Linked DNA regions of Homo sapiens: region 1 is linked to region 2. Evidence: fine-mapped expression QTL. A gene starts in region 2. The other region holds a variant in brackets. All regions are shown on one strand. Distances are from middle to middle. Region 1 overlaps KIZ (kizuna centrosomal protein). Region 2 holds the start of KIZ-AS1 (KIZ antisense RNA 1).

The links. PIP is the estimated chance that this variant, and not a neighbour inherited with it, causes the effect.
Region 1: its variant is the best candidate, but not a certain one, in a credible set for the expression of KIZ-AS1 in subcutaneous fat (GTEx, PIP 0.78).

Annotation. Positions count from the first base shown.
Region 1 is chr20:21,239,722-21,245,103 of GRCh38, forward strand. KIZ (kizuna centrosomal protein) reads left to right here. Exons shown (of 13, transcript NM_018474.6): 12 at 4,524-4,567. Among named protein-coding and RNA genes, the nearest start is that of KIZ-AS1, 24 kb to the left of the region's middle. The variant G/A (reference allele first, on the strand shown) is at 2,632.
Region 2 is chr20:21,215,546-21,220,927 of GRCh38, forward strand. It overlaps KIZ-AS1 (KIZ antisense RNA 1), which reads right to left and starts at 2,744. Exons shown (of 8, transcript NR_109956.1): 1 at 2,602-2,744. It overlaps KIZ (kizuna centrosomal protein), which reads left to right. Exons shown (of 13, transcript NM_018474.6): 9 at 38-103.

The DNA.
Region 1 (5,382 bases), 24 kb after region 2:
TAGTGCACTGTGTCATCCTGACTCCACGTATAGAGTGTTCACTGTGTGCCAGGGCTGCTCTCGGATAAAACCTATTCTGTTGAAGTCCTGGCTGGCCCTAACTTTTTAAGTTTAACAAGGTTGAGAACACAAGTGACTTTGATTAGCATTGTCCTAATCTGGTTTATCAGTAGCAGGGGAATTTATAAGCAGTTACCAAAATGCATCCAAAATAAGATGGCTTAATGGCTAGGCAGAGGGGAGAGATGTGATGAAGTCAGTACAGCAGAATGGTAACAAGTGAGCATCTCCCTAATGGGAATGGGACATTCCTGGTAGAGCTGGGAGAAAAAATGACCAAAGCTACTGGGAAATTCTGCAGAGATAATTGTCCCATTACTTTTTAATTAATTAAAACTAATTAATTAACTATTTTTTTTTTGAGACGGTGTCTCGCTCTGTCACCCAGGCTGGAGTGCAGTGGTGCAATGTCAGCTCACTGTAACCTCTGCCTCCAAGGTTCAAGCGATTCTTCTGCCTCAGCCTCCCAAGTAGCTGGGATTACAGGCACATAGCACCATGCCTGGCTAATTTTTGTATTATTAGTAGAGACAGGGTTTCACCATGTTGGCCAGGCTGATCTCGAACTCCTGACCTCAGGTGATCACCCGCCTCAGCCTCCCAAAGTGCTGGGCTTATGCCACCACACCCAGCCGATTGTCCCATTCAAATGAGACCGGCGGAACATGGTTATATTTTAATTTACTCAGTTAATCATCTGCAGTGTCTTGCCTGAAAATGGCTTATTTTGAAGTAGGACCTCCAGTCCAGTTGTAAACTTCTAGGGAAAAAATACCAAGTCTGCCCTCTGGGGTTCCAAGAGTCGCTCCTGAGCCATGGTGCGGGGGAAAGGCAGGCTCTCTGGCTTGCAGCATGGGCCTCATGTGAGGCAGTTCTTTACAACAATGGTGGCCCTTGGGCCGTGCCCAGGCCACTGCCTCAGTCCATACGGCCCGCAAGCTAAGAGTGGTTTTCACATTTTTAAATGGTTGGAAGAAAATTCAAAGAATAATGTTTCGTGACACCTGAAAGGTATATGAAATTCAAATTTCCGTGTCTATACGTGAAGTTTAATTGGAATACAGCCACATCTTTTAGTTTACAAATTGTCCATGGCTGTTTTTGTGCTACAAACACAGTTGAGTAGTTGCGGCAGACCATATGGCCCACAAAGCCTGAACTATTTACTCCCTGGTTCTTTACAGAAAACCTTTGCCAACGTCTGCCTTACAAGATGGAAACATTACTTCTACACTCTCAGCAAACATTACACAGTTAGATTCTGAGCACATAAGACCACATGGTGACCATATCTCATGGCCTACAACCTTAACTCTTTGATTTCTTTTACTTTCTGAAATGCAGTTTTGTTTTTCTTTCATCTACTCTAGTAGCCAAAGTAGTTGGCTCTATCCAGCACACAATAGAAAGTTCTCAGGCTTCTCCATCAGCCTTGCCTTAGCTTTACATATTAGGTATGACCTAGAGAAAAAAATGTTGGCCCCAAGAATTCTGTATAATAAAAAATCAACTATGAATTGCAGGGTCACATTTACTTTCAGAGATTTTCCCAAAAGGAAAAATAATTGCTCCTTAGATACGAGAGTGGAGAACAAAACACTGGAAAGTACGCTCTGCCCTTCTCCGTGGGTAGGCCACGCACCACGCACATTTAGCTCTGAAACATGTTTCCTGTGAGAAAACCAATCACACAGACAATTAAGAACGATTACACAATTAATTCACATTTCACTAGGATGTTTACTGGCTCCCTGCATTACACAATTAATTCACATTTCACTGGGATGTTTACTGGCTCCCTGTGGCTTAAATGTTCTCAAAGCTACACTGTGTAACCACAGGACAAACAGAAAAAGCAAGTTCAAGTGGCCTCATAGAGACATGGCTTCAGGAAATCATTTTTTCCTAGAGTGCCACATGCGGAAGTGAGGTCCCTGAAATGCTCAGTGGGTCACCTCCGTGGTGGGACTCAGCATTGCTGGCTGATTGCTTTTGATGAGTTAAGTGACGACTAACACACACTCGCATAGATGTTCTCATGTGTCTGTGTTTACAGCCTTGTGCATGACTTTTTCCTTTTTTTTTCTGCTTCAGCTTTTCTGGGTTTTTATTTTTTTTTCTTTGCCAGCAGGGAAGCCAAAGAAACTTGATTCTGAAGTGCAATATTGAATAGAAATATGTAAATCAAGTATTATATAATTGAATATTGATCAAATGCCTTTAAGCAGGGCCCTATGCTTAGTGAAGTTCGCTTGTTCATTCCAAGTGAACATACTCATTAAGCACCTGTTAAGTGCTGTGCACCGCCTTACCCAGGTGAGCTGAAACAGGTGTGGTCACTACCCGCATGGATCTTGCAGTTCAGAGGGGGAGGACTGGCACGTCAGTTGGCTGCACAAGTGGATGTGAAACAGCAACTTGACGAGGACTCAGTGGTAAAGATAGGGAGTCAGAAGTGGGAAGGCTCCAGCAGGACAGCACGACACTCCTGGGGGATCCACCTTGGAGGCACTGCTTGGGATTTAGGTCTTTGTGCAGAAATCAATGGAAAGGCATTGAAGAATTTTAAGC[G/A]AGGAAGTGGAGCGACCAGATTTGCATTTCAGAAAGCTCACTCTCATTGCCTAGTGGAAAATGGATAGTAGGGGACAAGATGAGTGTGTGTCACCAGTTAGGAGGTTGTTGCAGAGAGAGAAGCAAGAGCTGATAGTTTTGTTGACCAGTGTACTGGCAGTGCCCAGGGAACTGGTGAGGACTGCAGGAAGTATTGCAGGGGGGTCGAGAGGGGTGGGGGTGGAATTGGCAGGACCGAGGGCCAGACTGGATGTGAAGGAAAGAGGAGTGGAGACTGGAGAGGGGCTTGGGGAGACTAGTGGGTCAGGGGTGCCATTTGCTGAGACGGGAGGAGCTGAGCTCACCTGCCACTGTGTCCTTTCTCCTGTGTCAGGGGCTCCCTGCTGCCCCACCCCGCCACACCTTGTTCCCCAGTCCTGTCCTGTGAAGGCCTCTGCCTTTGGAGGTGCCGGGCTTCCTCTGTGGTCCTGCAGCTCCCCCAATCACCTGCCACAGTGCTCTCCATCCACCCAGCTGGCAGAGATCTCTCCTGCTCCCCCTGTGGCTCTTCTTGTATGGACCGCGGCTGGCAAATTAGCCTCTTTCCACCCCTCCTAGCATTTTTATAATCCACCCTCCCCTGCAGCACCTAGCCCAGTGTCCTCAGGTAGGGGGAGGTGGGGAAATAATAGACATCCCTGCAGTTGCATTTAGTGTGTGTGTGATGTGTGTGTCACTTTCTGTAAAATGGGTTCTTGCAGGCTCACCTCACTGACAGGTCCCCACAATCCTGGCAGCTCCAGGACTGTCAGTCAGCTGCTGGCCTTTCCAGATGCTCGTAGGGGTCTTCCATGCTTCATGGAGAAATGGCTGTGAGCACTACTCAGTCATGGCAATTAAAGAAACAGGCACTAAATTTAAAGGGAACACTGAAAGGTAGCCTAGAAAATGATACCTTAGTGGAGCATGTTTTTCTGAAAAAAAAAAGTAAATTATAGCAAAACGTAGATTTTTAAGCCAAAAGTCAACCACACTTGGCCCAAAGGGAAGGAAAAGATATATTTGCAGGGTTTCCTGTGTCCAGAAGAACAAGGCCCTGGCTGTGAGAAGGGCGGTGGTGGTGCGTGGGGTAGGGCAAAGTGTCGAGCCATGCACCAAGAATGGTTTCTCTCCCAACATCTCCTGTGACCATTCAGGCAATTCTGAAAGAATCTCAGCATCATAAAACATTCGAGTGACACTCCCTGAGGAGACTTTTAAATTCATTAAAATTGCAAAAGCTCCTGAAAAGGCACACAGAGAAATCATATCCCGTGGAGCCAGTTTTCTTGTCATATTGGCCTCAGTCGAGACGGTCCTGGACGCCACGAACACTAGCATTTATGTGACACTTGCAGGGCCCTCTACCAGGTGTTTGTTTTGAACTCCTTTCTTAACTGTTAGTATTGCTGCCACTGGTTTGACTAAGTATTTTAACTTCCTTACCAACATCTTGAATTCCCTACTGCAAGTGTTTCATTTTTAGCTTGCCTGAAAGCACTGAAGTTTGATGCATCACTGTCTTCCAGAAGACTGTTGAGGGAAACCGGTCCCCTGCCTCAGGGGAACATGCGATCATCCTCCCCCAAGAACACGTGGCCCCACACAGGCACAGCTCAGCAGGGCGGGGTGGGCCATGCAGACCTGCCGAGGGGACACACGCAGGACGGGAGCAATGCTGTTGAGTAGCGACCCTCCCGACAAGGCCACGCTGCATCCCGATATTTTCCCTTTACTTTTAAACTCTGGGAAGTAAGTGTAAAGTTCTGGCCTCCAGTGAATCAAAGTGCTTCTTCTCTAATGCGTTCATTATGAAAATATTAGTCTCATTGTCTTTTCTTTTTCAGAACTTAGACTGTTTCTTTATTTTGCAGGCATGAAAACAAAAAGAAACCCGTGATCAATTTAAAATCTAATGGTGAGAGAGATAATCGGACACTAGATTTTCTTTTTCTGTTTTAACCAAAAAACTCTGTGACATGCATTTGTTGTTTGCACCCTCATGTGAGTCCTGAAGCGGGCATGCTCACAGGGACTGCCATTGCAGCTGTCCCTGGGGTGGAACCTGAGGGCTTCTGGAGGCTCAGTTCTTCACAGACAGGACCACACGGGTGCCATGGACCACAGGGGCAGAGCATTGTAATTTGCAAGTATGAATTTGCAGGGGATCCTGGCCTCCATGTCTAATTAATTATCAGCACCCTGTATTTTACCAATGAAATGTTTCTTGCCTCTCTCCTCATCCTCAGAAGCACCCATTGCTCATGACCGGACAGGCTCTTGGAGTAACTCTAACTGGTTTCCTCATACCCAGTTCCTCCCAGCTCCTGGGAACTCCCAGCTCCTCCACCTGGCCACCAGCCTCCAAACCCTGGCTTCCCCCGACCTTCCTGTGTAAGGACGGCCAATGCCTCCCCGTACCTTCAGGGTAGAGTCTGAGCTTTCTCCATTCCTGGGAGGCCCCAGCCCTGCTCTCCAGCTTATTCCTCCCAAGGTCGCCTCTTTGGGTCAAGCCACAGTCAGCTTTTTTCAGCTGTAGCACACCTATGCCTCTGTACCTTTGCCCATGTTGTTCCTTCTGTAGGGAGTTCCTTTTCCTTTTCCTCAGCCCAGTGAGCTCCTATTCATCCTTCAACACCCAACTCACGGGAAAAATCTAGCCCTCCTACCATAACACTGTGGCATATCCCCTGCCCAGCTTGGGCTCTCTCACCTCCTGTCTCCTTAAACCCC
Region 2 (5,382 bases):
TGAAATACTTTTTTTTTATTATGCATTCAATTTTTAGAAGTTTCAAGTGGCTGTGGAGACAAGAGCAAGAAAGAAAATGTGGCTGCAGATATCCCAATCACAGGTAAAGCTATGGTTGCCTAAGAGTTTCAGACACAAGATTTAGCATTATTATATAAGCGGAACATTTTGGGTCAGTGGTTTGTGGACCCCACTAAGAGCACATGTATTCAGCTACTGCATGCTGGAGCAGGAGATTAATCCTAAGAGCAGAACATATATACTTATGTTAACATAAACTAAGGTGGAAAATCACCGTGTCTATTGAATTCTTCATCACCATGTTATATATTTACACCTGTAACATCCTCCATCATGTGCCCTTTCAGCACCTGCGTCTCTGTAAAAAGGTCCATCTCCCTGGGGAACACCCGGTCATTACACAGCAAACTATAGATGTTTCTGATTTTACTGTTTTCTTTCCTGTAGTAATTGCATATGTATATTAAAATAAGCAGATAATAAAAAAATGTCAGATAGGAAGCTTGCGTTTGCCTCAGTTACAAAGCCTGTCTGATAATTTAAAAATTGTACCAATCGGGCTTCATCAAGACCTATTAAGATTTCTGCACATGTATTAGGCTTGTTTAGGTGGAATCTGAACGATATCATTATTTTTTTCTTTTTAGAATAAGAACAGCAGCAATTAGTATTCTGTACAGAGTTCTACTTGTCATACATCTGAATTTACTAGTACCTTATTTTGTGAAGTGGTGTACTACTTCATTATAAATTCAAAGGTCTGACTTTAAATATTTACACAAGTAAATACACCATTGCACCAAGGTACTGAGGCATGCATCTGCATATGTGGTAGTTTTGTTGTTTATAAGCAGAAAAGAATGGCTTGCTTTTATGGCAGTGCAGTTCCTGGCATGATTAATTTTTTAAACTCATGTTTCTGTGATGAACTCTGGTTTTGAAAAAGCAGTTTATGGTAGAGCAGTTATTGTATATATTATGCATTCAGATAATATTTCACTCTAAAATGCAGAGTTTTTTTATTTTAAACATTTTCACCAATGATATGTTTATTGTGTTTTTAGTCTGCATTTTCTGCAAACTCTGGTATGGCTCCCTGCTATTTTTATTAATAGAAATGTAGATGATCCCAAACTACAGATAACCATGAAGTCATTTGGATACTTTTCTCTTGCATTTACTTTTGGATGCAGAAGTATCTAATGGCCTCTGAATTTATTTCAATTAAAATTACAAAGGATTATTGAGGAGAAACCAGGAAATGACCTTGTTCATTCATTCTTCTCTTTTCAGTATTCTTTACAATCATCCCTTGCTGGGAGTAGTTGACTCTCCCCAAAGTTAATGCAAATGTATTTTCTCATATACTTTCTTTATAAGAAAACGGATAATTAAGTACCAGGGTTTCAAATCCCTTCTCATGCAGAAGTGCAATATGGCTAGAAGCAACTTGGGCTGTTTGCCATTAAGATTTTAAAAGAAATTGTAATTCCAGCAACCTGCCATTGATCCATCAATAGTTGGCAGTTAAAAAAAATGCCTTGTGCCAGAATATTAGACATTAAAAAAAGTACTTTGGAAATTTTTTAAAAACTTAGCAAAGCCATACACATTGTTAAGGTGTTACTGTTCTGTCCTTGCCAGTGTACTATCCCCACCCAGGGACCTCCCATGAAATTCATGTTTGAGAGCTTCACGCACCTTGGCACTACTAATACTGTTGCTTTGTCCATCATTGCAGCTACTTTGATCTCTAAGTTCTTGACCATCATCCCTTTATTAAATGTTTGTGACTTTGGCATAACTATTTGGAGATTTCACTTTTGGTAGAGTAAAGCAAGTATGTAGTTTAATTTAAGACAGAGTCTGTCTGCCTCTTTATAATAGTTCTGTTGGGGTGTCCTGTTTGTGTGGGTGCATGCTGGTTGTGTTTGTGTGGGCTGCATTCCTTCTAGAATATTCCAAAGAAAATATTCCAGAGGCTGTCCCCTGAAGGTTGAGGAAATGTAGCAGTTGGGCTGGGGCTTTGCAACCAGCCATCAGTGTCAGCTCTTTTACTCCTTGCTCTGTTTCTCTACCCTCTCTGAGCCTCTGTATTGGGAAAGCAGACATACTGCCCAATAGGATTGTCTTAAAGTTTAAATGAAATCATTTGTGAAAGTGCCAAGCAGATACTAGACACTCAATTTTATCTGTGAAGTATAATAATATTCATGTGAACATTATTAGTGTTCCTGGTCTTCTGTGTGGGCCCCCACAGTCCCCAGCATTTCCAAACCAGCTATGAGGAGCCTCACAAAGCAAACTCAAAGAAGAACATAAGTAGAGAGAATGAGGATGCAGCATCACAGAAAGTGCCATTGTGAGACGAGCCCCTGGAAGAGTGGACACTTTCAGTCTGTTCTGGTGGACCTGCATACCTTCCTTGAGTTGTGGTGGCCACTTGGGACCAAGACCCACACAAGCACAGTACTGCTGCAATACCTGCAAGACAGTGCTTCCCAATAGTACTGCTATGTTAGTTTCTGCAAGAAATTGCCACTTGAGAACACAATTGAGATTCAAATCCAGGATAGTTACCTTATCAAAAAGGAATCTCAAGAAGAGTTTGATGATACTTTTCCAATTTCCACTTAGTCCCATGAGGACATCCACAGAGAAAAATCCGAAACAGCTGCTGAAGTACTCCTGAAGATCTCATTGGTCAAGGCCCAGACATCTCTGTCTCGGGGTGCCTATGTGCCCTTAGTAACCCTATGTGCTCACAATGGATGATGTTGCAGGGTACCTGATTACCAGGCAGCAGACCTCCCCTGATGTGTGTGCTGCCCCACAAGTATTGATGAGCTAATGCAGCATTTTCCAAAATGTGTTATTTGCAATGCTCCACCCAGAAAATACATCAATTAATACATATTTTGTTGCCCAGCCCTGTGTGATCCTTCTCTCTCTCTGCAGTATGCATAATGCATAGAAGCATAGTGAAGACTTGGAAAAGACTTTCAGCAAAGGAATTGTTTAAAAATGTGAGCCTAGAGTTTCAGATAACTTATCATTTATTTGAAAATGGAATTCTTTCTGTTAATAGCCAACAGAATTAATGTTCTGTGGAACATACTTTGTGAAACATACACACATGTATGTGGAACACTTTTAAAGCAGTGAGTCCAATGTGGGCACCAGTTTCCTCAATATGCTAAAATTATCTTCAGCATTTTTCTGTGATTTCATTTTGTGGGGAGCTCCCTTGTGCGTGAGATTGCTTTATAATGAGATTTTGGGCTACCTTAGTGTAACTACACCCAGATGTTATGACTGACAGCTGCTTGTTACAGCTGTTCCTTGAATTGACAGTAAGGTTACAATAGTAATTTTAGGCGCCCAGAAGTGCTATTCTTCAGTGTGGGATCCTTCTGTGCGTCTTTATTTGCTTTTCAGCCATTTCAGAAGAAGTATAAGAGAAGACGTGGCTGAGGTGAAATCTGGGAAGTCACAAGAGGTTGGGGGTGGGAAGCTGTGAAGTCATACCTTTATCAGAATGAGGGGGTCCTGGGGATGTTTAACCTGAGAAGGGCACAGTAGCTCTTTAAATATTTGAGGAGCTGCCATATACCAGGTAGAATATTTATCGAGCTTAATTATAGAGCGTAGCTCAGTAACAAAACAACTTTCTAGCTCTTCATTTCAGCAAAACCAAGTTCAGTATCTTCCAGGGGTGAGTGCTTGAACCATGGCAGGAACCATGACTTTTTTTTTTTCTTTTGAAACAGGGTCAGGGTCTTGCTCTGTCACCCAGGCTGGAGTGCATTGTTGTGATCACAGCTTTTTGCAGCCTCTATCTCCTGGGCTCAAGTGATCTTCCTTCCTCAGCCTCCCAAGTAGCTGGGACTACAGGCATGCACCACCATGCCTGGCTAATTTTTGTATTTGTTATAGAGATGGGGTTTCACCATGTTGCCCAGGCTGGTCTCCAACTCCCGACCTCAAGCAGTCTGCCCACTTTGGCCTCCCAGAGTTCTGGGATTATAGGCATGAGCCACCTTGCCTGGCCCTGTGGCTCTTTAAAAGAGCATTGTGGAAGGAATTATTGCTTCTGTGACCCCTGACATTCCTTCTAATGCCAAGGGACTGTGCTTCTTCCTCTATGCTAATGGAATCCAGTGTGCCAGCATTCTCATCTCTTCATTTCCCTTTCTCATTTGCTTATCACCACAAAACGGAGGTCTTCTTGGCTGGGGCTCCTCCTTAAAGAGTCTGCTATCACTTTGAAGGCATCTGCTTTGCTAATCGTTATTATGGAGCATGCGAGTTTTCTGTGTTTAGATTTACATAGAAACCCTCCTGGGCACACACTGATGCCCCACCCACAAACACAGAGTCAGTATTCCATAGCCTGTATGATCTGTTGTTGTGAATATAATCTACCCCTTTTATTAGTCTAGTTGTTGTTCACTAAAGAATCCAGGTGGAAATCAAAGATGAATTTTTATATCTATAAATGTATGGTTTTCTGTATATAATAAGTAGTATATAATTAGATGTATTGATACAATATATATTAGTTATATATTATATATCATATATCATTATAGATGATTATATATAAAATCCTTAATTATATTAGTTAATAAAATTAATATTTTTACGTGGGCTGAATCCTGGGATACCAGAAACCACAAAAGATGGTATCCCTGCCCTCACTAAGCCTCCCTCATCTCTAACCTTTACAACAGTCCTATAGGGTAAACATTAGTACTCACCCTACAAGTGGTCAGACAGAAACTTAGAAAGGTATCCTGCTCAAGGCCATGTAGCTGGTGTGTTTGATCTTGAATTGAACTCAGACTTTAGGATTTGGGCTCTTGAACTCCTTCCATTTCACTGCCCTGCCTCTTTTATTTATTTTGTTTTTTTATTATTTATTTATTTATTTTTGAGACAGAGTCTCACTCCATCACCCAGGCTGGAGTGCGGTGGCACGATCTTGGCTCAGTGCAACCTCTGCCTCCCGGGTTCAAGCGATTCTCGTGCCACAGCCTCCTGAGTAGCTGGGATTACAGGCATGTTCCACCAAGCCTGGCTAATTTTGTATTCTTAATAGAGACGGTTTTGCCCCGTTTGCCAGGCTGTACTCGCATCCTGGCCTAAAGATACCCACCCACCTTGGCCTCCCAAAGTGCTGGGATTACAGGCGTGAGCCGCCACGCCCGGCCTACCCTGCCTTTTTTATTTTACCAAAAAGACAACTGCATCAGGATGTCCGGATCAATTAAACATCAGTGTACATCATAACAGAAGATGGGCTTTGCAAGGCTGCTTCTGAGAGCAATGATAAACAAAGCTTGCCTTTCCTTTCTCTTG